Homo sapiens: one gene and its partners. The protein of the gene in region 1 purifies or fractionates together with the protein of each later gene. This does not show direct contact. Each region holds a gene or a part of one and is shown on either strand. Other genes may lie near its edges.

Region 1 (5,825 bases):
TGTTATATCACTTTGTCTTCCCACCAGCTATGTATGAGAATGCTAGCCTTAGGTGTATTTTGATACCATATCAGATTGAGGAGGCTGCAGAGATGAATCACAGACAAGGTTCCTGCCCCTAGGAATTCTCAGTCCTCCAGGAGGCCTAAAGGCTAAAAAAAATGACATAATAAGCAGGAGGCAGATTTACCCTGAAACTAATGAATCTTAAGCTTCAGAGTCCTTTACTTATAGGGACCCTTTCCAGTGTTCCAGATATGTGTTCACAGGGCCATTTTATAACATTTTTCCTCAGGAGGACACCCCAAATTATTTAAGTTTCAGGTCCCACAAGATCTAAACCCCCCTCACAGACTTAACAGTGAGCCTAAACTGGGGGCGAGAGTGGATTTCAAATCTCATCTGCAGCTGACTTAAGAGCAAGGGTTCCTATGATATTTAATGACTGAGACAAAATGAAAACGCTACTTTGATCGAGAGAGAGGTCCCTCCCCTGATTGGGATCAATAACCCACACAGGTAGTTAGCTGTCTACGCAGAGCCTTCTATATTTTCCCTCTACTTTTGAGGGCGGGAAATAAGTCTTGGCTGACACCAGTGTTTCCAGCAAACAGCTGAAGACTTGACACTTGGATGGCACTCAGGACAAAAATCTGAACAGATTACAGAACCGTTGTTGTTTTTTTTTTTTAAGGGGAGGGTGTGTTACACCAGGAATGGGTATTCAAGGTAGACACATCCCAAAACAGACACTTCAGTGAGAAGAGGCAGAGGTGTTTCCTCACCTGTAAAAACAGGATAATAAAACCTACTCTTGTGGGGTTTGGTTAGGATTAAGCAAGATCATTTATATAAAGACCTAACCCAGTGCCAGACTCTCGGGAGAAGGGGCATAAAGGACAGAAAATAAAATGAGTTGATCTTTGAGCACAGCGACAGGGATTTTTTGTACATCGTGCCTTACAGAGCGAGCGCTGGGAGGAGGAATCATCACCCTGCTGAGAAGTAATGGGTGCAGAATAAATCGAGTAAGAAGGAATGGACTTTTCTGGCGGATGCTTACTGATCTAACAACTGGATGACTGAGGAATGCGGTCCTAAGTGACCCCGGGCTGGCTGTGGGGCCAACAGCGTGCGGGATCTGACTAACAGCGTGTGGCAGCCGAGCGACTGCAGCAGCGGCGGGGACCCCATTGACTGTCCAGCCCCGAGAGCGGCAGGAGCGCGGTGGATCCTGGCTCGGACCAAGGCCTCTCCCCTGCGCCGACTGCAGACCAACCCTCCACCAGGAGCCTCGCGGGGGGGCGCCGTGGGCACCGCAGCCAGGTGCAGGCGCCTCCGCGCCCTCACTCCCCACGCCGAGGAGGTGGCCCTGGCTCCCTGCGGCCGCAGCCGGGGAACAATGAGGCGCCGGCCTCTTTAAGGGAGATACCACCGCGCCGGCGGGGCAGGGGACGGCATCCTCCCAGATGATCGCACCCAGCCCCGCGCCGCCGCCGCCGCCGCCGTCTCCGCAACTGCACCGCCCGCAAACATGGCTCAGTGACTCGGAGAAAAGCTGCAGTCTCCCTCCCGGCGGGGCGGACGCCAGGCCTCCTTGGTCGGGCCGCACCTCCCCGCAGGCCCGCCAAAGAGCACCGCGCCCCGCAGGCACCCGAGACCCGCGCGGAAGATGCACCGGGCGTTCCACCCCAGCGAGCCCCGCACCCCAGCCCGCAGCTCGGTAGGTCGGAAGGGGGCGGGTAGAGGGAGGGGAGGCCGCGGCCGGGCGCGCGCAGCCCCAGGCCCGGACCTGCCGCTGCAGACGGTCCCCGGGGCCGCGGGCCCTGAGCGCCCGCTGCGGCTGGAGGGTGGCCGAGCCCCGGCGTGGCGTGGCCTCGCGGTTCCCGAGCCCGGCCACCCCTGCGGGGAGCAGCACCAGTGGTGCGCTCCGGAGCGCGCACACCTCCGACGACTCCCGGCTCTGCAAATCCTCGAGAGAGGGAGGAGGCGAGCGGAGCGCCGGCCGCGCGCCTCGTCGGTGGCGCGGAACGTCCCGGCTCGCGCTACGGAAAGCCGGAGGGGGGCGGGGCCGTCGGCGTAAGGGGGTGTGTCCGCGCGCACCACGGGGGCGCGCGCCGGCTGCTGACTGGAGGCGGCGGCAGCGGAGGCGCGAGCTGCCCGATAATGGCGGCCTGCAGAGCCCATGAGAGGGAGAAGCGGCAGCGTCTACCCTGAGGTAAATCTGGCCTTTCGGCGTGGCGGAGAGGTCTTGCTGCAGAGCCGATGGCCCTGCATGTGCCTCCCTCCCTGGGAGGCTTGTCACAGACGTGTCAGCGGAGTCATCCTGGGGAAGGCCCTGCGCTCCTCAGGCCACCGACCCCAGTCGCGGCCTCCTCTCATACCGGGGCCACCTCCCCCCGGCCCTCAGCCCCCAGCCCCGAGGAGTTGAGGCAACTGCAGGGCTGGCTCCTCAGAGCGAAGGGGCTCAGGAGGCTCCCCTCCGGGCTTCATCTGAGCACGGCCGAGGAGGGGGAGGGCCTGACACTTGGCCAATGAGCGCGGCCTGAGCCGCCGCGTCGGGCAACACCTCTGGCCGCGACTGGCCCTTCCCGGGCGCCGGCAGGTGTCTGGCCTGGCCGGCTCGCGTCCCAGCGCCTGGTTAGAGCAGCGGGAGCGAGGGCCCGCCACTTTCGGTCGAAAGTCACTTAGGTTCGCATCGGATGCATCATTGGATCCGGGATCCCACGGGTTTCATAAACACCTCTCTCCTCCCTATTCAGGAAGGTGCTCTTCCCCATGGGGACTGTACCAGGCTGGAGAGGACATGGCACTGCTTCAGAGACACGAACCACCTTGAGTGGATGTGATTGGCGATCCCCGTAGAGCAGGAAAGCTCGTCTGCTGTGCAGCCGGCGCAGAGGATTCTGTGGCAGGAAATTAGACACTAGGAAATTCAGTAGCGATTTGAAGGGTGGGTGTCCAGTTAGAGGAAGTGGGACTGAACACAATCTCAGAAGTCATTTCTTTTTATTAAATCTATCCTGTAGACTTAAAGCAGTGGATCCCAACTTCTCAGGCTCTAGGGTCAGTAGCCTTTTGCTTCCCCAGCTGTACAGAATAAATATTGTACAATCTCAGGTTACTTTTCTAGCCCGTGGTCACAATCTACAAATGAGAATTCGTTCATGAAGTTGGTTATAATCTAGAAATTCTTTGGGCGCTGAGGAAGCCCACTTTAGACTTTCTCCATTCAACACATGAGCATTTCTGTGCAGGGCCTTTGCCCTCGCCTTTAAACCGTTCAGTAAGTTGAATTCCCAAGAACTCTGTCAGAGAGCCCCTTGATATGCAGGATCTTTGTTGGCAAAAATGACCTAGAACTAAATAGATATTGTTTACTCCAGCTGTCTTATGACTAGGAAAAAGGAAACATAAAAATTTTAAAATAGCTATTGTTAAATGACTACAAAAAGGTAACTGTATTCTAAGTATCCAAGTAGCTTACTTTATTTTTAAGTAAATGTTTCTGGCCGGGCGCGGTGGCTCACGCCCGTAATCCCAGCACTTTGGGAGGCCGAGGCGGGCGGATCACGAGGTCAGGTGATCGAGACCATCCTGGCTAACACAGTGAAACCCCGTCTCTACTAAAAAATACAAAAAAAAATAGCCGGGTGTGGTGGCAGGCGCCTATAGTCCCAGCTACTCGGGAGGCTGAGGCAGGAGAATGGCGTGAACCTGGGAGGCGGAGCTTGCAGTGAGCCGAGATCAAGTCATTGCACTCCAGCCTGGGAGACAGAGCGAGAGAGCGAGACTCCGTCTAAAAAAAAAAAAAAAAAAAAAGAAACGTTTCTTTTCCACAAACTTTATTTTCATTATTGTGTAAGAAATAAGGAGATGACATAAGAGACAAAATTAAAATATGAATAGATAGAGTTTGGCCACTTACTTTTACATAATGAAAACAAACATTTTCAGTTCTATAAATGATTTGGTTCACTTTCAGGCCTTAAGCATAAGCCAGGTGTTTGTATTTCTAACTGTGAGGGGGTTTTGTTTTTGCTGTTTTATGACCATTATGTGTGTGTCAGCCTGAAGGAGAAGCTGGGATTTTGCTTGCTTGCTTGTTTTTTCCTGATCAGTAAATAAGAATGCTGAATTTTGGGGGTGTATTTTTAACAGTGACATTTTCAAGCAGTTCATATAAGAGACAGCATACTGTAGTGCTTCAGATCGTGGTCGTCTGAGGCAGATGGCCGGGTTTCAAATCCCAGGTCCACCAGTTACTAGCTGTTGACCTTAGGCGTTTCATTTAACCTCTCCATTATATAGTTTCATCTATAAAAAGACCATAATAGTATCTATCTCATCAGATTATTATGAGGATTAACTGAATTTAATATTCTAAAGAGCTTAAAACAGTTCCTGATACATGGTAAATACTACCTGTTAGCTTTATTGTTACTATTCTTAAAATTAGATTTCCCCTAGGTATAGCAAATATCCTTCAAGCACTGCAGACAGTCAGACAGATGACAAGTAAATCATACATAAGAAGAAATACAAGCCAGTAGGTATACATAATTTCAACAGAGCACTTTGTTGATTTTTCCAGAAACCTCGACCTTGAAGATGGTGAGTAGCCAGCCAAAGTACGATCTAATACGGGAGGTAGGCCGAGGTAGTTACGGTGTTGTGTATGAAGCAGTCATCAGAAAGACCTCTGCACGGGTGGCAGTGAAGAAAATTCGATGTCACGCACCTGAAAATGTTGAACTAGCCCTTCGTGAGTTCTGGGCACTAAGCAGTATCAAGAGCCAACATCCAAATGTGATTCACTTGGAGGAATGCATCCTACAAAAGGATGGGATGGTGCAAAAGATGTCCCACGGCTCTAATTCTTCCCTTTATTTACAGGTATGTGTTGTTGATTGGGAAATAGAAATGATTTGAACATGGCATTGGCCAGCAAGAAGAGGAATGAAAGGGTCAGACGAACGTTTCCCTTTAAATGCAGGTGTTTGTAGTTAGAAGTAGATAAGTGTCTGCCAAGAATTGAGTAGATGTTTGCTTTAAAACAAGGTTTTATTTAAACCTGTGAGGCACATACCTAAAAATAACATAAGCCACCTGTTATGCAATGGTACTTGCCAGTCTGCATAGGAATGGGGCAAGATAGGAACTAGAGAGGTGCTTGAGACTACAGTCTAATAACTTCATTTCTTTGAAATCAATAATTTTGGACTTGAGGACAGAAGAAAAGGAAAAATTCCACAACCAGTAGCAACACCCCTAGGTAATTGGGCATCTCTTTTATAAATCACTGGTTTGAATGTAAGCCTCTGCTGTTTTAGAGGGATATCTGGTTTCTTCACCACGCAGTTCCAGTTAATTTTCATGAAGTACATGATTTAACACCTGAATGTTATTAACAGTGCTAACAGCTAACATTTGAATTTGCATGCAGTTCGATGCTCTGTGCTGAGTGCTTTAAAAGCAGTTGCTCAAAACAATCCTGTGAGGAAAGGACTATTATTATCTTCATTACAAATGAAGAAACTGAGGCTTATAGTATAGATAATGAATTCATCCAAAATCACATACATAGTAAGTGGTACAATTGGGAGCTGGAGCTGAGAATGACAGCTGAAGCTTATGCTTTCTTAACTCCCAGATTACTCTTCTGTAAACCTGGGAAAATGGAAAAGCTTTTCTGTTTTTCTTTTGTTGGCTTCTGCCAGAAATTAAAATCTCTAGTAGCTCTATACTCAAAGAATAGAAAATATATTAAGACATAGCTTGTTAAAGGCTAGGGCAGAATTTCTTAAAGCTAGTCATTCTTGGGC
Region 2 (5,184 bases), on another chromosome or scaffold:
CCCCCTCCCCGCCCCCTACAGATACCAAAATCCATTGATGCTTAAGTCCCTTATATAAAGTGACATATTATCTGCATATAACCTACACACATCCTCTCATATACTTTAAGTCATCTCTAGATTATTTACAATACCTAATACGGTATAAATTCTTATCCTGTGTTGTGTAAAATTTGTATTATTTTTTGCTGTACTCTTATGTCTTACTTTTTTTCCACATGTATTCGATCAGCAGTTGGTTGAATCTATAGATGTGGAATCCATGGATGAGGAGGGCCAACCATATTTTCCTCTGTATGACACTGGTATACTTTATATACAAGAATAATAGAAATTAAGTTCGGTGGTTGTCTGAACAGTTAAGAGTTTGAACTAGATAATTTCTATGTTCAAACACTGATTCAGCAGGTCTTTAGCCGTACCTGCTATGTGCCAGACCCTGGTCTAGGTGCTAGGAATGTGAGAAGCCTTTGGAGGGGACGCAGAGCCGTCATAGATCTACTCGGGAAGTTGTGAAAGACTTCTTAGAGAAAGTAGCATTAGAGCCAGGCCTTGGAGAGGGTAGGATCTCTGTTGGCAAACCTGATTTTTTTACATGAGAAGTAACCTGATCTTACATCTATTTTAGAAAGACAACTTGAGGGTGGAGTGGGGTGGGGTAGAGAGTTAAAAAAGTAACAAGAGCCTGAACTAGGTCGGTGGAGACAGAATGGATAAAGAACAGGATAGTCTTGTGAAGGAAGACTCAGTGCTAGGAAGTGTTGGAGGAAAGGAGCTCAGGTCTCAGTGACCAGAGACCAGGGTGCTGCTCTCTGAGAGAAGCTAAAGTGAGAGGAGACCTCGGCACAGGGCCTCACCAACGAATGTGTTTCTGTTGTTGCTGTGGTGGTTAGGGGGAACTCAAGAGGACAGGCCGATTTCTGGGGGGATTGAGGGAAAAACACATTTGATCCTTTGCCTTTTCCAGTCTCTTTATATTTACTGGTTAAATGTAATAAGTTTATTGGGAACTACTTGTATGTTCAAAGATTGTGCCTTCCACTTTCCAGGAGCTCACAGGATTTTTTGTTCGCTGAAACTTTTGTAAATTACTTAGTCTTCTTGATTCTGCTTAAAGAAAAAAAAAAAAAGGTTGTTTCTTCAGAAATATAGTTCTGGAGTAATCAGTTGAGGATTTTTCCTCTGACAGCCCCTATGTCCGAATTTTCCTAAGGAAATCCAGACTGATTACAAAGGAAGAATACTTAGCAGCCTGATTGTCAGGCCCTGTGTCCTCGGGGCAGGGGTTAGCGCCAGATCCGTTAGAGGTGTCAGGCGGCTGGTGCCGAGCATAAAGCACACACACGGTCACTGGTGCACTTTTTCTCTTTTTTCAGATATACGCCAGCGGTTAGGAAAAAGACCACATTCTCCGGAAAAGGCTTTTAGTAGTAACCCCGTCGTTCGGAGAGAGCCCTCTTCTGATGTGCATAGTAGGCTAGGTGTTCCCAGGCAGGATAGTAAAGGCCTCTACGCCGATACTCGGGAGAAGAAATCAGGTTGGTAACACTTAAAACGGATGGGAATGGGGATTCAGTGAGAGCAGAGGACAGTGGGTGTATTGGAGAAATACTTTCTTAGCAGAAGGCAAGAAACAGCCCACGCCAAATATAAGTGATTATTCCTTTTCCATTATAGTTATCGTCAGCATCAGCATCAGCATCATCCCAACAGTTAGGAACGCTTAGAAAATAGAAAAAAATAGCACACTCCTGGCTCTTTCTGTTTGGCACAAATCTTTTTAGTTTCATGTGAGCTATTCTGGTCTTTGCCCACATACAAATCCTAGTTTTTTCATACAGCATTTTATCGTAGTTGTTTGCCACATTTTATAATCTTTATAAATAAAACTTTTAGGCCAGGCATAGCGGCTCAACACCTGTAATCCCAGCAATTTGGGAGGCCGAGACGGGGGGATCACTTGAGGTCAGGAGTTCGAGACCAGCCTAACCAACATGGTGAAACCCTGTCTCTACTAAAAACACAAAAATGAGCCGGGCGTGGTGGTGGGCGCCTGCACCACTGCACTTCAGCCTGGGCAACAGCAAGACCTTGTCTCAAAAACAAAAACAAAAACAACTTTGAATTGCCTTATAATGTGGCCGTCTACAAAATTCTAAACACGTATTTCTCTATTGTTAAATTTTCATAAAATATATTTCAAAAATTAATGGAAGGGATCTGGGAGTGGCCTACTTCTGGCAGAATGGATTGGCACACAGGGTGGTGTCTCAGCAGGGAAGGGCAGGAGTAGGAGGAAACGGCCTCTCAGGTGATTCTGATGTGTCTGGTGACAGGGAGGGACCTGACCTGTCCCCCCACGGTGAGAATCCCGTGCTGGGTCCAGACCCTTCCGTTTGCGGGCAGGGGCTGCGGCCCGGGAAATGAGATTTTGCCTGCCCAAGGCTGCACTGTGGTGGCAGGCTCCACAGACTGCTGGCGTTTCCTGCACAGCAGGTGTTGGCAGTGCTGCTGCCCCCTCAGTGCTACCCTGGTTCTTAGCGCTGACTGCGAAAGTGAAATGCCATCTCATCCAAACAGGTAATTTATGGACTCGCCTAGGATCTGCACCCAAGACCAAAGAAAAGAATACGAAGAAAGTGGATCACAGGGCGCCTGGCGCTGAGGAAGACGACTCTGAGCTGCAAAGGGCATGGGGGGCTCTGATTAAGGAGAAAGAGCAGTCTCGCCAAAAGAAGAGCCGGTTAGATAACTTACCATCTCTCCAGATTGAAGTTAGTCGGGAAAGCAGCTCTGGTTCAGAGGCAGAGTCCTGATGCCCCTGGGGCCTATGGCAGCTGCCCTAAAGCCTGACATTCTTGCACAGGGTGGGGCGCGCAGTAGGAACCTCCCCCGCAGGAGCTGGCGCCCTCTCGCTCCTGCTCACACAGTCACCCTCCGCTCTTGCTACTTCGGCAAGACATCTTAAGAATGTGACACATTTTCAAGGGCATCTCTATCTTTCGCTGCAGAGTTGTAGTTCTGGGCCCTCGATTCCTTTCCCACCACCCCACAGGCTTTACCCTTTGAGAAAAAGGCAGCCCTCCAGATTTTGTAGACATTTTTCTTAATATTTTTAACATTGTGTCTTTTAAAAGAAATGTTTTACACAGTTCATCCAAAGAGCAGAGAACTGAACTTCTCACTATTGCCTTGGCCCTGACAGCTGTTACCAGCACCCTTTTCCCAAGAAAAGTCAATTCCCAGGTGCTTATTGGACATCCTTCGAGGGGGAAGAGGAGGGAAGCGGCCAGCTCACCCTTCCGGGACCCTAGTGTGGGGCGAATCTCACGGACCTGACCTCAGAGGTGCACCAGTGCCGCCCAGGTAGATAAGAGCTGCAGCATTGACTGTGCTTCCGTTCTTCCCTCGGGGATTGCTCATGGCATGGGCCTCTTACGTGCTGTCAGCTTGATGTGAAGATCAAGTTCAGTGCTGTGGGATTTTTAGGAACAAAAAACTGTGACGTCTGGATTTGGGGTTGATTTTTGTGCTGGGGTGGGATTATGGGTCAATGTTGAAGAATTTTTAAGTCTGTATTATGTTTAAAACATGAATGATTTGAAAGTTTAAATTTTTAATTTTTATATGTGGAAATTCTTCCTGTTGGCTAAAGGGGAAGCTCAAGTGGTGTCGTCTTTTGTGCTGTTAAATATATATTCTATTCTTTGGAAGAAGGCAGAGAGAGGAGTCTTATTATTTTTAAATGCTCCTAGTTGTATAGTCTGTCTGTTGTACATAGAGTTCAGCTTGTTTTTTGGCTCCAGTAGGAAAAAAAATCCATCCATCTGAGATGGGGTCCTGTTGTTTATTATCACTCTAGAAGTTATACATTGATATTTATTCTTTCTGTCCCCACGTTGTGGCACCTGAAGACATCTTCAAAATTGGCAGAAAAGATAATAGTTATAAAAATTTTAGTTCATTTATTTTTAAACTCCTTTCAGATTATTTTACCATTAGGAGGAGGTAGATTGTTTCGTCTTCCTGTCTGATTTTTGTTTTGTAGTATTTAATTTTGTATTCCTCTGCAGTTTTAAGAAACAGTGTTTTTCTTCGGTTTGCTGGAACATGGGCGTTAGAGATGGTAATAAACCGTGGTCCTTTTTGCGATGTCACGACTCTTCACCTGCCTGGGCTGTTGTGCACACAGTGCAGCCTGGATCCTGTCGATCTTTACTTGTGGCGGAGCTAATGGTCACATTGATAGTTGATTACACTGTGGCACGAATTAATGCAGAACACTGTTATTAATAAAGGAAGTAAAGGGCTGCAAGATTTGAGAGCTGCAACAAAAACTGTATTGTCCCATATTTTGTTGATTAACCTTGCTTTTTCTCCCTCCCTTTAGAGAGATTAGAGGATATAACCATGATATATTTCAGCTTCTTATTAGGATTCTAGGAAAGAGATGGTTCTGGTTTCTCTGCCAGTTGAGACTTAAGACATCTGAGATTTCTCAGCTTTTCTTTCCCTGTGAAGCATACAGCTGAGAGCCAGGTTCTTAGGAAGGGTCAGGGTTTGGGGAGTTGGTAGAGTGAGGAGTGCGGGGGCCTGAGAATCGGACACCTGGATGCCAACCCCTGGCTCTGCTCCATGGACCTGGGCCTCAGTTTTCCCGTCTAGCAGTTGAGTGGGCTGTTACCAGAATTCCTGGCTTTGTTGGTGCATCTCAGTGGCGGTTTACTCTTCCCAAGCTGTGACGGCAGTGGGCTCGCCAGCATGAATTTCTACTGCAGGTGGAGGAGGCGCCAGGGAGACAACTGAGGGCGCGCATGAGGTGTAGACAGGGGCTTATTCCCATCCCAGCACAGTCTCTGCTTCTACTGACGGGGCAAAGATGTCTTGTGGTCAGCGTCCCAGCTGGCATGCCTCTGCAGGGTTTAGAATATGCTCCTTCACAGACTTTCCTTTTGGTTTTACACCAGCAGCTCAGGTCCATTTGTTCCACGGCCTTTCAGCACTCAGCAGTCTCCTGCTACAGATCAGCGAAGCCATTCTGGAAGGAGGTGGTGTGCAGTCAAAACTGGGTCTTTGATGTAACCAAGAGAAATACACACTCGAGTAACCTTACAGTTTTCACAGACACACAGAGAGAACCCAGAAAGGCAGCTTTAAAGATTTTTACTTCTCGGAGTTACTGGC
Region 3 (5,884 bases), about 130 Mb from region 1:
CTATTAGGCTTTGGAGGCAGGCAGACCTAAGTTCAAATTCAGGTCTAACTTCCTAGCTATGTGACCTTAGGTAGTTTACTTAAGTTTACTTACTTACTCTCTGTGCCTTGGTTTCTTCATCTATAAATTGGGTTAATAATACCTACCAAATATTCATCTTCTAGATACAGCCTCTGGCTTGTTACTTCCCTAACTTACCCTCAGTTCCCAAACCTTTCTGGAAGTTCTAAGCCCCATCAGAAAAAGCTTCAAACACCACCACAGAAGAAGGTCTAATCGGCTCTCCCTCTTGTTCTCCAACTTCACCCTCTCATACTGGCCTTCTTCTAACTCTGATCAGGCAGAAGCAACCTCAGCCCCCTCTTGCTCCCAAAGGTTGAAGCCCCTACTCTGCTTTTCCCTGGCTGGTATGCCTACCCCACCTTCACCCCAGGACTGGAGCCAACCTGTCCCCATGTAGACAGATCTCTCCAAACACAAAGCCTGCATCCTGCCCTCCTGCAGTCTGGAACTCCCCAGTGCTCTGTGCCCTGAGGGGAAGTGCTGGAGGCTGTGCTGTTGCTACAGGGCTGCCCTCAATACACCAGTCTCTTCAACCAAGGCCCTTACCATGCCTTCCTATCCTGTTGTTCCCTTTCCTGTCTGTTGCATGCTGATCTATAAGTGAGGATGGTAAAGATGGCTTTCCCTTCCAGAGTCACTCAGGAAGCTACACAGTATATATTATCTGCAAAGTGCCACTCAAGAGCACTCTTTGGGACTTGGCTTCTGAGCTCAGAAAACTTCCTCCTCAGGAATGGTTCTTCATGCATTGAGGATAAGTGTGATGTTCATAAGGTGCCAAAACTCAATGAGAGAAGAATAAATGGCAGCATGGTGCAACAGAGAGAACACAGGCCTGGAGTCTGAGGGGCTCTAGTCCAGCACCGTCTCCGCTTCACAGAGTGGCTACTTCTCTGAGGATTTCTCAGTGTTCTCATTTATGAATTGGGCTTAGCCATACCACCTCAGAGGATTGCTAGGGAGATCAAATAAGATGAGATGGTAATGAAAATGGAATAAAATCAAATGAAATGAAATGGCAATACCATTATCATTAACCTCTTGGGGACTTACCCCTGGGATGGCCAGGCTATAGACTTCATGAGAGTTGAAACTGCTGCCATCGTATTCAACACTGTATTCCTAGGGCCTTAGCCCTCTGCCTGAAATGGAGCAAGCTTTCCATAAATATTTGCTGATTAGCCACCAGTTGAGTTTCCTGTCCTTGCAATGAGGAGTTACCACATGATCATGGTAAGCCTTTTTTCTCATCAGCTACAAAATGCTACCTACCCATAGCATGGGGTGGGGAAGGTATTAACTTTTTTTGTTTTAATTAAAAATGAGACCAACTTTAAAGAGATGAAACTGGCTTTCTTGTGTCTCATACACTAGGTGTGAAAGGCACTTACAAAACAAGAATTCAAAAAATGTTCTAAGTAATAACAGTTCTAAGTAACATCACCACAAAAACATGTGTGCCCTCTCAGAGTGGCTACTTTGTAAAAGTTAACCTCAATAGATATATTCTTGAACATTTATATTAAAAAAGGAAACAGTGGCCAGGCACGGTGGCTCACACCTATAATCCCAGCACTTTGGGAGGCAGAGGCAGGTGAATCATGAGGTCAGGAGTTCAAGATCAGCCTGTTCAACATGGTGAAACCCTGTCTCTACTAAAAATACAAAAATTAACTGGGCATGGTGGCAGGCACCTGTAATCCCAGCTACTCAGGAGTCTGAGGCAGGGAATTGCTTGAACCCAGGAGGCGGAGGTTGCAGTGAGCCAAGATCGCACCACTGCACTCCAGCCTGGGCGACAGAGCAGGACTCCATCTCAAAAAAAAAAAAAAAAAAAAAAGGAAAGAGTCCCATAACTTTGTAGGCTCATAGAGACAAAGAATGTTCACCAGGACCCCAGCCTGTACCAAGCACTGCTGAGCCCATCACAATGGAAAGAAGCTTCCCTGTCAAGAGGACTCAGCTACAGAAGGTACCAAATGTGGTAGGAGGGGCCTGTTAATTAGACCAAGGCAGTCACACATCAGCAGGTAAAACAGAGACAAGAGGAGGTGTGGCTGGGCTGGGCTGGATCTTGGATGAATCAAGCCTTCCCATAGGGCAGGATATCCTGTCTAAAACAAGAGCCTTGGTTAAAACCCCTATAAAAGGTTCTCATCACACTGACCTGGTACTCCTCACACCACTTAACAGCCACTTGTTTCATCCCACCTGGGCATTAGGTAAGTCCCCTCATAAGAAACCTCTTTCTCATTCTCAGTGTCTTGGTGATCTGAGCTCATAAAACTGGGGCAGTCAGGTATGGACTATGCATCCTTCAGAGCTAGCTGTGAGCACTGGGCAAACCAACGCTACCGTTGGGAAACATGCTCTCCTGAAGCAATCAGGCTTTCTCCTCCTCCCTGAGGCTGGCCTGGGAGCAGCTCCTCTCACTGGGAAACTGTGTGGGCAGCGGCTATGGGGCCACCCATGTGCCTTCCTGGATCAGCAAAGGTTTCTTTTTTCTAAGGCTCTGGAAGCTTCTTTGCAGTGCTGAGAGTCTATGGGATCAGAATCAGTTTACTTATGCCAACCTAGACAATAAGATCAAACTGTGTCATGGATGAAGGGGTTTACATGATTCCCCTCTCCTACACCAGGGTGATATTTAGGCAAAATATGTGTAGATTTTTCTAAGGAATCTAAAATGTAACTAAAAGGTCATCTTATTATTTTATTATCTAAAGGTCAGTGGTTAAAGTCTGCTACATGGTTTTAAAAAAAAAGAAAGATATTTTTCATCTATGTTGAGGAAAACATCCCCAGTTTTTTACCTTGATGAAAAGTTTGCCTGAAATTGTTGGTTACCAGGTCCTAGAAAGGGTTTCTCCTGAACAGCCCACCTTTTGCTATGACTTACTGAGTCCTCATGGCCACACTAATCTGCTTTTTCTAGAACTCAAGTCTCCTTCCTTCCTTTTTTCTCTTTCTTCTCCTACCTATATCTGCCTCGTCCCATCCTCTCTCTGGCTTTCCAGCTGCTACAGGCTCCATCTCCCCTTGCATTTGAGACTTGTCATCTTTGATACCATCTCCTCCTTTGGGTCTCTCCAAGGCTTCTGCTTAATGAATCTTCAAGTCTCTTTTCCTTTTGCTCATGCAACCAAACCCAGGCCTCACCTCAACCTACCTCTAGATTTCTGGCTAATGAAAAAGAAAAGCTTTCCCTTTGATTAGGAACCAACTCATAGGTCACCAGAAATCTGGGCCTGATGGAGCCACGTGCCTGTTGGGCAAGCTGACTTCTCTGATAAGTCTCAGGGCTGTGGACAGAGGCGACATGCAGAGAAACTTGGACCCTCAGAACTGGAAGGCCTCCCACCCAAAGAAGGTTCCCCCCTCCTGAGCATTCCCAGCAGGTGGTAGCCCAGTTTCTTCCCACTTTCCCAAAAAAAACAAGAAGGGAGGGCTGTGTCCCTGGAATTTCTGCTTGGCTCCCATCCAAGACAGGGGTTGACTCACAGATGTATTTACTTCCTTTTGGTGTTCCCGATGGGACCCTAACACCCTTGTGATAAATAAATAAATCCTGTCCACAGGGTACATTCTAGAAAGCCCATTGCATTTGGGTTAAGGAAAAATGGATCCTAGGATTTCTTGGCTCCTTAAAAATTGTGTGGCCTAACTTCTCTGAGCCTGTTTCCTCACCTATAAAAAAAAGTGGAAATAATAAGGATTAGAAGAGATGATGTACAGGAAAGTGATTATATAGGTGTACAAAAATTATATGTGTGTATATGTATATAATAGCATAATAATTATATTTAATAAGGAGCACTTAATATAAGCCAGGCATCTGCCAAGTGCTTTTTATGAATTATGTCTTTAAATCTTCACAATAATCCCACAGAGTACTAATATCACCTTCAATTACAATGAGTAGTAAACTGAGGCATGGAGAGGCAAAGCAACTTGTCCCAGCTCACACCATACTTAAGTGGTGGGGCCAGCATTTAATCCTGACTCAGGAACCTGCCTCCATCCTGTGTGCTCCTCCTTCCCATACATAAGATGCATTATGTAGGAAAGGACAAAGGAAAACTAAAAACAGAGCTGAACGTGCAAGGAAAGACCTAGCAGCAGACGTGCTATAAAGGAAATAGCTGAGGTTGATTATGGAGCCTCCAAGGGAACTTTTCATCTTTTCCAGGTTGACTTCAAAGATGCCTCAGTTACTGCAAAACATTAATGGGATCATCGAGGCCTTCAGGCGCTATGCAAGGACGGAGGGCAACTGCACAGCGCTCACCCGAGGGGAGCTGAAAAGACTCTTGGAGCAAGAGTTTGCCGATGTGATTGTGGTACGGTGTGCTGAGCCGGGTGGAGAGGGGACATAGCAGGAGAGTGAAACCTGGTTTGCCTGCAGAGGCCTTGCCTGGGGAATTTGAGGAGGCAGCAGCTAAACCCAGGCCTGCCGGGACAGATGGCAGCTGTGCAGGCAGAAAAAAAGGTGAAAGAACCAGAGATGGTCATGGGAGTTGGCAAGTCCTGGCTCTTTAGATTAAAACCTTGGTTTTAATTAATTCTAACTTAAAGACAAGGTAAAAGGGCTCTAAAAGGACAACTCAGACAGGAGCAGAGCCTTGGAATATTTCAAAATGAAAATAATTGCTGCTTTCTGCCGCCTCTTAAATTTGATACAGTAAATATTTCCCACGTCTATCTGAAATGTAATCATCCATTCATAGACATTCATTAGAAGCATAGCTCTGGGCTTGCACGAAGCAGTTACTCAAAAATATTAGCAGACTGATCACATCAGAAATGAAATTTTGAAGAGCAGGTTGTTAATAGCTAGGGGGAGACTTTGGAGCCTCACCCCACCCCACCTGGCAAACCAGAACCAAGGCCTTGATGCACTTTCCTGTCTTTGGTTTGCATCTAAAGCAACCAGGATGATGATGGCCTTAGGGACAAGGACATATGGGCACAGAAGGATGCTGCATCCACATGCTCAGGGCAGCGCTGCAGGGGCCCACTGCTTCCCTCCCTCTTTATCATGGGGAAACATCTGGGCCTCAATGAGGAGCGCACAGAATTCCCATGGGGCTGTGTTCCCAACCTGCTGCTCTTTGTGCTGGGCCTGCTGAAGAGACTAAGGCCTCAGTGCCAGGGGCAAGGTGCCAAGGGCAGCCCAGACAGTCAACTTGAGAGCCCAAACAGTTGCATTGTGAATTCAATAATTTATTAACTCTTCAATAAATCTTTATCTAATTTTCCTGTAGCCCAGAAATTGTGCCAAATAGAGGCTACCAAACAAAAAATGCTCTCTACACTTGAGGGAGAGAGACGGGACTAAAAAAAAATAAAGGCAATTAAGTCTTGCTGCTGCTCTAGCCGTATGTGTGTGTAGTGTGGGGTCTGAGGCAGGGGAAGCTGGCAGCAGATTGGAAGGGACCTGCCCATGTCCTCCTCAGGGGAGGGATGCTGACTCCACCTCATCTTCTCCTCAGAAACCCCACGATCCAGCAACTGTGGATGAGGTCCTGCGTCTGCTGGATGAAGACCACACAGGGACTGTGGAATTCAAGGAATTCCTGGTCTTAGTGTTTAAAGTTGCCCAGGCCTGTTTCAAGACACTGAGCGAGAGTGCTGAGGGAGCCTGCGGCTCTCAAGAGTCTGGAAGCCTCCACTCTGGGGCCTCGCAGGAGCTGGGCGAAGGACAGAGAAGTGGCACTGAAGTGGGAAGGGCGGGGAAAGGGCAGCATTATGAGGGGAGCAGCCACAGACAGAGCCAGCAGGGTTCCAGAGGGCAGAACAGGCCTGGGGTTCAGACCCAGGG
Region 4 (5,184 bases), on another chromosome or scaffold:
GTCTTGCTCTGTTGCTCAGGCTGGAGTGCAGCGGTACAGTCTCCGCTCACTGCAACCTCCATTGGTTCAAGCGATTCTTCCTGCCTCAGCCTCCTGAGTAGCTGGGATTACAGGTACACACCACCACGCCCAGCTAATTTTTGTATTTTTGGTAGAGACGAGGTTTTGCCATGTTGGCCAGGGCCAGGCTGGTCTTAAACTCCTGATCTTAGGTGATCCGCCTGCCTCGACCTCCCAAAGTGCTGGGATTACAGGTGTGAGCCACCATGCCCAGCCTAGGAATGTCCAAATTCTGATAATGTTTTATAAGATTAAAAATATAGGCCAGGCCAGGAGGTCAGGCGTTGGAGACCAGCCTGGCCAACATGGCAAAACCCCATCTCTACTAAAAAAAAAAAAAAAAAAAAAAAAAATTAGCCAGTCATGGCAGTGCATGCCCTTAGTCCCAACTACTCAAGAGGCTGAGGCAAGCAAATTACTTGAACCTGGGAGGTGGAGGTTGGAATGAGCTGAGATTGCACCACTACACTCCAGCCTGGGCAACACAGTGAAACTCCATCTCAATAAAAAAAAAAGTATATATATATACCAGGCATGATGTCTCACACCTGTAATGTCAACACCTCAACACTTTGGGAAGCCAAGGCAGGAGGGTTGCTTGAGCCCAGGAGTTAGAGACCAGCCTGGGCAACATAGTAAGACCCCATTTCTACAAAAAATATAAAGTTCTCCAGGTGTGGTAGCTTGTATCTGTGATCCCAGCACTTTGGAAGGGTGAAGCAAGAGAATCACTTGAGCCCAGGAGTTCAGTGCTGCAGTGAGCCACCATACTCCAGCCTGGGGGACAGAGCAAGACCCAGTCTCAAATACACACACACACACACACACACACACACACACACACACACACACACACACACACACATATACGTATATATATACACACACACTTTTTTTTTTAAAGAAAGAGCTTGGGATATATATTTCTATACTTTTTTTAAGAAAAAGATTGGAAGAGACATATATATACACACAGACACATACATACATTTTAAAGAGATTGACGTATGTTTTTAACCTTTTTTTAAAAAAGAAATGGGATATATATATATATACTTTTTTTTCTTTTTTTTTTTTTTTAAAAGAGATTGTTTCTTGCTCTGTCACCGAGGCTGAAGTGTGGTGGCTAACTGCAGCCTCGACACAAACTCCTGGGCTCAAGCAATCCTCTTGTCTCAGCCTCCCAAAGTGCTGGGATCCCAGGCCCAAGCCACCATGCCTGGCTTAAAAATGTAGTACATTTGAATTGTATCCTTTTGAAATTGTTCGTTTTTTGGAAAGAAGAATAAGAGATGAAGAAAAATCAGACTGGAAGAGGGTTGTTTTTTCCCTTTTGTAGTTGCAAATCCTAAGTGGGCAGTGGTAAATTTCTAGAATCATTTGTAGCATTCTGTTTTAAACTTGGCAATTTAAAGATGTTATAAATGAGGAGTCCCCAGAAAATGGTCATTTCATTATCAAAAGCAGGGTTGCAAATTTCAGATTGATCTTTTCAAAAGTTAGATTTGTACTTGTTCTCAGTGTTCCTATCTCTGGAAACTAAAGAACCTCCTCCATTGTTAGCTGAAAATTGCACAGTGAATTTGAAAGTCAAGATGTCCCAGTCATGGACATAATGCTGCGATAGGTTACTTTTTGGAATGGAGAAAACATCTTAGAGATTGAGTCTGCATCAGAATATATTCTGAATGAGCATGGAATGTTCTTTACCCATGTTAGATATTAATTAATTAAGTTTTTCCATGTTTAACTTTTTTAAAAAAGCAAGACAATAAAAACAGTCTTGTAATCTGAACACATATTTTGGGTTTTGTTGCTAGCATAAAAATTATTACCTAGTGGATGGTAACACTGTTTTGAAATTCTAGCTTGGAGGAGATGTTTGTTACAAGAGAAAAGGTGTTTCATTGAAACCTAACAGGGTAATTTACATGGAGAGATACTTGTTTCTCTTTTGAGTTATTGTTAGGTTAAGACATAAACTTAGAAAAATTGAGATGCTCATCTTTCCCATCTTAGATTTACTTTCACTATGAACTTTATAAATTCTTTTTTTTGAGACAGTCTCACTCTATCGCCCAGACTGGAGTGCAGTGGCGTGATCAGAATTATTCAAGCTTATGTATGTGTGTGTATTACACATATATTACACATATGTATAAATATCAAATATCTTTTTTACATTATATATAATGGTATATATGGTTGCTATATGTTTTATGTGTGTATAGCAGTATCTATCTATACTGCCTTATTTCCCAGGCATATTTATATGCGAAACTTTTTTTCTGTGAAATCTTATTGTACCAAGAGGAATAAGTATATATGCCCACAAAAAGACTGGGTCATAGCAGCTTTTTTCACAGTAGGAATAAACTACTGATTCACATAGCAACATAGATGAATCTCAGAAATACTGTTCATAGCAAGAGAAGCCAGGCACAGATGAGTATGTATAAGTGTTTATGATGCCATTTATGAAAAATACAAGAACAGGCAAAACTAAGGTATGGTGATAGAAATCAGGACAGTGGTTGCCTCTGGGTAGGGGTTGTGGTTGACTGGAAAGGAGCACAAGGAAACTTTCTGGCATGATGGAAATATTCTGTAGCTTGACTTGGGTGATGGTAATTCAGTTATATACTTTTTGGGTAACTTCGTTTTCATGTAATTTTTAACTTACAGAAAAGTTGCAAGACTAGTACAAAGAGCTTCCGTATACCTTTATCCAGTTTTGCCAATTGTTATATACATTTACTCAAACATATTGATTCAAACTTAAGATTTTATAGTATGTAAATTTTACTTTAATAAAGGAAAGAAAGCTAAAAAAAGTGTTGAAAATGAGGATGATCTTGTTATCTAAAAAACATGAAATACCTCAGTTAGGAATTAACCAGTGGTTTAATAATGATGAGAAAAAGAATCGTTGGCTGTCTTTTGTCTTCATGTATATGTATTTATACTGCTTTTCACTAAAGACTCATGACATGTTTCTGTTAGAAGAAACAGGATCCTCAAAACGATTCAAGGTAGAACTGCCTACAAGGCAAACCTGCTTTATTTTGTTATCCTACACATGTCACCTAGGGAATGTGACTGAAACCTAGCAATAGCTTTCTGGGAATTGGAAGTTGTGACTGTTTCTGTTAAAAGAGTTGTATACCTACAATGTGCTAGCTGTTGCAAAGACATGAACAGTTTTTACTATCCTAGAACTTAGCCAAAGAAGAGGAGGCATACAAATCTGGTTGTTGTTTTTGGGTGGTGCTATTTTTCATAGGCAGGAAAGACATTGGTGTTTGTAAACTAAACTATTCTTGATCATTGGTAAGTGGTAAATCTGTCACTGTCTACTAGATTTAATGTTTCCACAGCCTCAATAGTGTGATTTGATTTAGATTAAATCAATTTAAATCATAGCTTAAACAATAATGGCTAAAAAAATTCAACTTTCCAATTCTACTACTTATTTTATGTAATTTTTAGTATGTGTTCATTACAATTTAGTATTAGGCATAATTAATGGATATTGGTTCTTTTTGTTTTTTCTTTTGAAACAGGGTCTAATTCTGTTGCCCAGTCTGGAGTGCAGTAGTGCGATCATAGCTCACTGCAGCCTGGAACTCCTGGGCTCAAATGATTCTCCTGCCTCAGTTTCCTGAGTGGCTGGGACTATAGGCGTGCACCACCATGTCTGGCTAATTAAAGAAAAATTGTAGAGACAGAGTCTTGCTGTGTTGCTCAGGCTGGTCTTGAACTCCTGGCCTCAAGTGATCCTCCCACCTTGGCCTCCCAAAGTGTTAGGACTGCAGGTATAAGCCACTGTGCCTGGCCTGGTTCATTTTTTTAAATCTTTTTTTTTTTTCCATCTACATCAGAAAGTTGTTTTATTTGGTCATATAGTCGAGTAGAAGATGTTTGAAGTAACTGGAGGGCTAACCAGATGCTTCAACAAATTAATCATTGATATTCAACATAAACATTTATTTTGCCTTTACTCATGAAAATAATAAAGTTATATGACCTATATATTTTTATTTATAAGTTTTTAAATTTAATATATTTTTATTTCAATAGCTTTGGAGTACAAGTGGTTTTTGGTTACATGGATGAATTATATCATGGTGAATTCTGAGATTTTAGTGCATCTGTTACCTGAGTAATACACATTTTACCCAATATGTAGTTTTTTATTCCTTTCCCCTGCCCTCTTCTGAGTCTCTAGAATCCATTATATCACTCTGTATGCCTTTGTGTACTCATAGTTTATCTCCCACTTATAGGTGAGAACATGCAGTATTTGGTTTTCCATTCCTGAGTTAGTTCACTTAGAATAATGTATCCAGCTTTATCAAAGTTGTTGTAAAAGACATTATTTCATTCCTTTTTTATGGCTGAGTAGTATTCCGTTGTGTGTGTATGCCATGTTTTCTTTACTCATTTAACTTATATATTTTTCAACAAAAACATAATTCTTTGAAGAATGACAGATGTCTGATATCAATCAACATGGATAAAAGGACTAACTTCTTCCATGTAATAAACATGTTCATATTTCTCTGAAATGACAGAATAGGCCTTTTCCCCTTTTATGGTCCATTTCACTATGGTGTTTAATTGATCAGTCGAGAATGAAGAAAACATTCTTTGAAAAGTATCTGCCAGAATTTTGTTTAGAATGGTCAGCCTTAACTGAAGATAGGATTTAAAAAGTATACCTGTAAGTAGACCTTTTTAGACTTTTTATTATGAAAGTTGCATACATACACAGAATCGTAGAGAATTGTCTAATGAAGTTCCATATACCTCCTCTCCAGATTCTTTAATGAACCTCCATGTACCCATTCCCCAGATTCATTAATTACTGACATTTTGGTTATTTGTATTTCATATATTTTTTTGAGACAGGGTCCTACTTGTTGCTCAGGTTGAAATGCAGTGGTGAAATCACAGCATGCTGCAGCCTTGACCTCCTAAGTACAAACAGTCCTCCCACCTCAGCCTCCACAGTAGCTGGGATTACAGGTATGCATCACCATGACCAGCTAATTTTTAAGTTTTTTTGTAGAGCCACAGTCTCACTATGTTGCTCAAGCTGGTCTTAAAATCCTGGGCTCAAGC

The links.
Region 2: the proteins of PDIK1L (region 1) and NCBP3 purify together in Homo sapiens (affinity purification with mass spectrometry; one large-scale study listed by BioGRID and IntAct). This does not show direct contact.
Region 3: the proteins of PDIK1L (region 1) and CRNN purify together in Homo sapiens (affinity purification with mass spectrometry; one large-scale study listed by BioGRID and IntAct). This does not show direct contact.
Region 4: the proteins of PDIK1L (region 1) and FKBP5 purify together in Homo sapiens (co-immunoprecipitation; 3 studies listed by BioGRID and IntAct, with this or other methods). This does not show direct contact.

The regions. Positions count from the first base shown.
Region 1 is NC_000001.11:26,109,698-26,115,522, forward strand, and holds the start of PDIK1L (serine/threonine-protein kinase PDIK1L), read left to right. Parts: upstream 1-2,126; 5' UTR 2,127-2,218; intron 2,219-2,762; exon of another isoform or gene 2,763-2,953; intron 2,954-4,594; 5' UTR 4,595-4,611; coding exon 4,612-4,896; intron 4,897-5,825.
Region 2 is NC_000017.11:3,810,676-3,815,859, reverse strand, and holds part of NCBP3 (nuclear cap-binding protein subunit 3), read left to right. Parts: intron 1-1,376; coding exon 1,377-1,538; intron 1,539-2,580; coding exon 2,581-2,816; 3' UTR 2,817-3,205; coding exon of another isoform or gene 3,206-3,314; 3' UTR 3,315-5,184. UniProt on the Homo sapiens protein: Associates with NCBP1/CBP80 to form an alternative cap-binding complex (CBC) which plays a key role in mRNA export. NCBP3 serves as adapter protein linking the capped RNAs (m7GpppG-capped RNA) to NCBP1/CBP80.
Region 3 is NC_000001.11:152,410,615-152,416,498, reverse strand, and holds the start of CRNN (cornulin), read left to right. Parts: upstream 1-2,235; 5' UTR 2,236-2,285; intron 2,286-4,252; 5' UTR 4,253-4,265; coding exon 4,266-4,403; intron 4,404-5,555; coding exon 5,556-5,884. UniProt on the Homo sapiens protein: Promotes cell proliferation, G1/S cell cycle progression and induces expression of the cell cycle regulator CCND1. Regulates proliferation induced by pro-inflammatory cytokine response via activation of NFKB1 and PI3K/AKT signaling pathways.
Region 4 is NC_000006.12:35,678,862-35,684,045, reverse strand, and holds part of FKBP5 (peptidyl-prolyl cis-trans isomerase FKBP5), read left to right. Parts: intron 1-5,184. UniProt on the Homo sapiens protein: Immunophilin protein with PPIase and co-chaperone activities. Component of unligated steroid receptors heterocomplexes through interaction with heat-shock protein 90 (HSP90).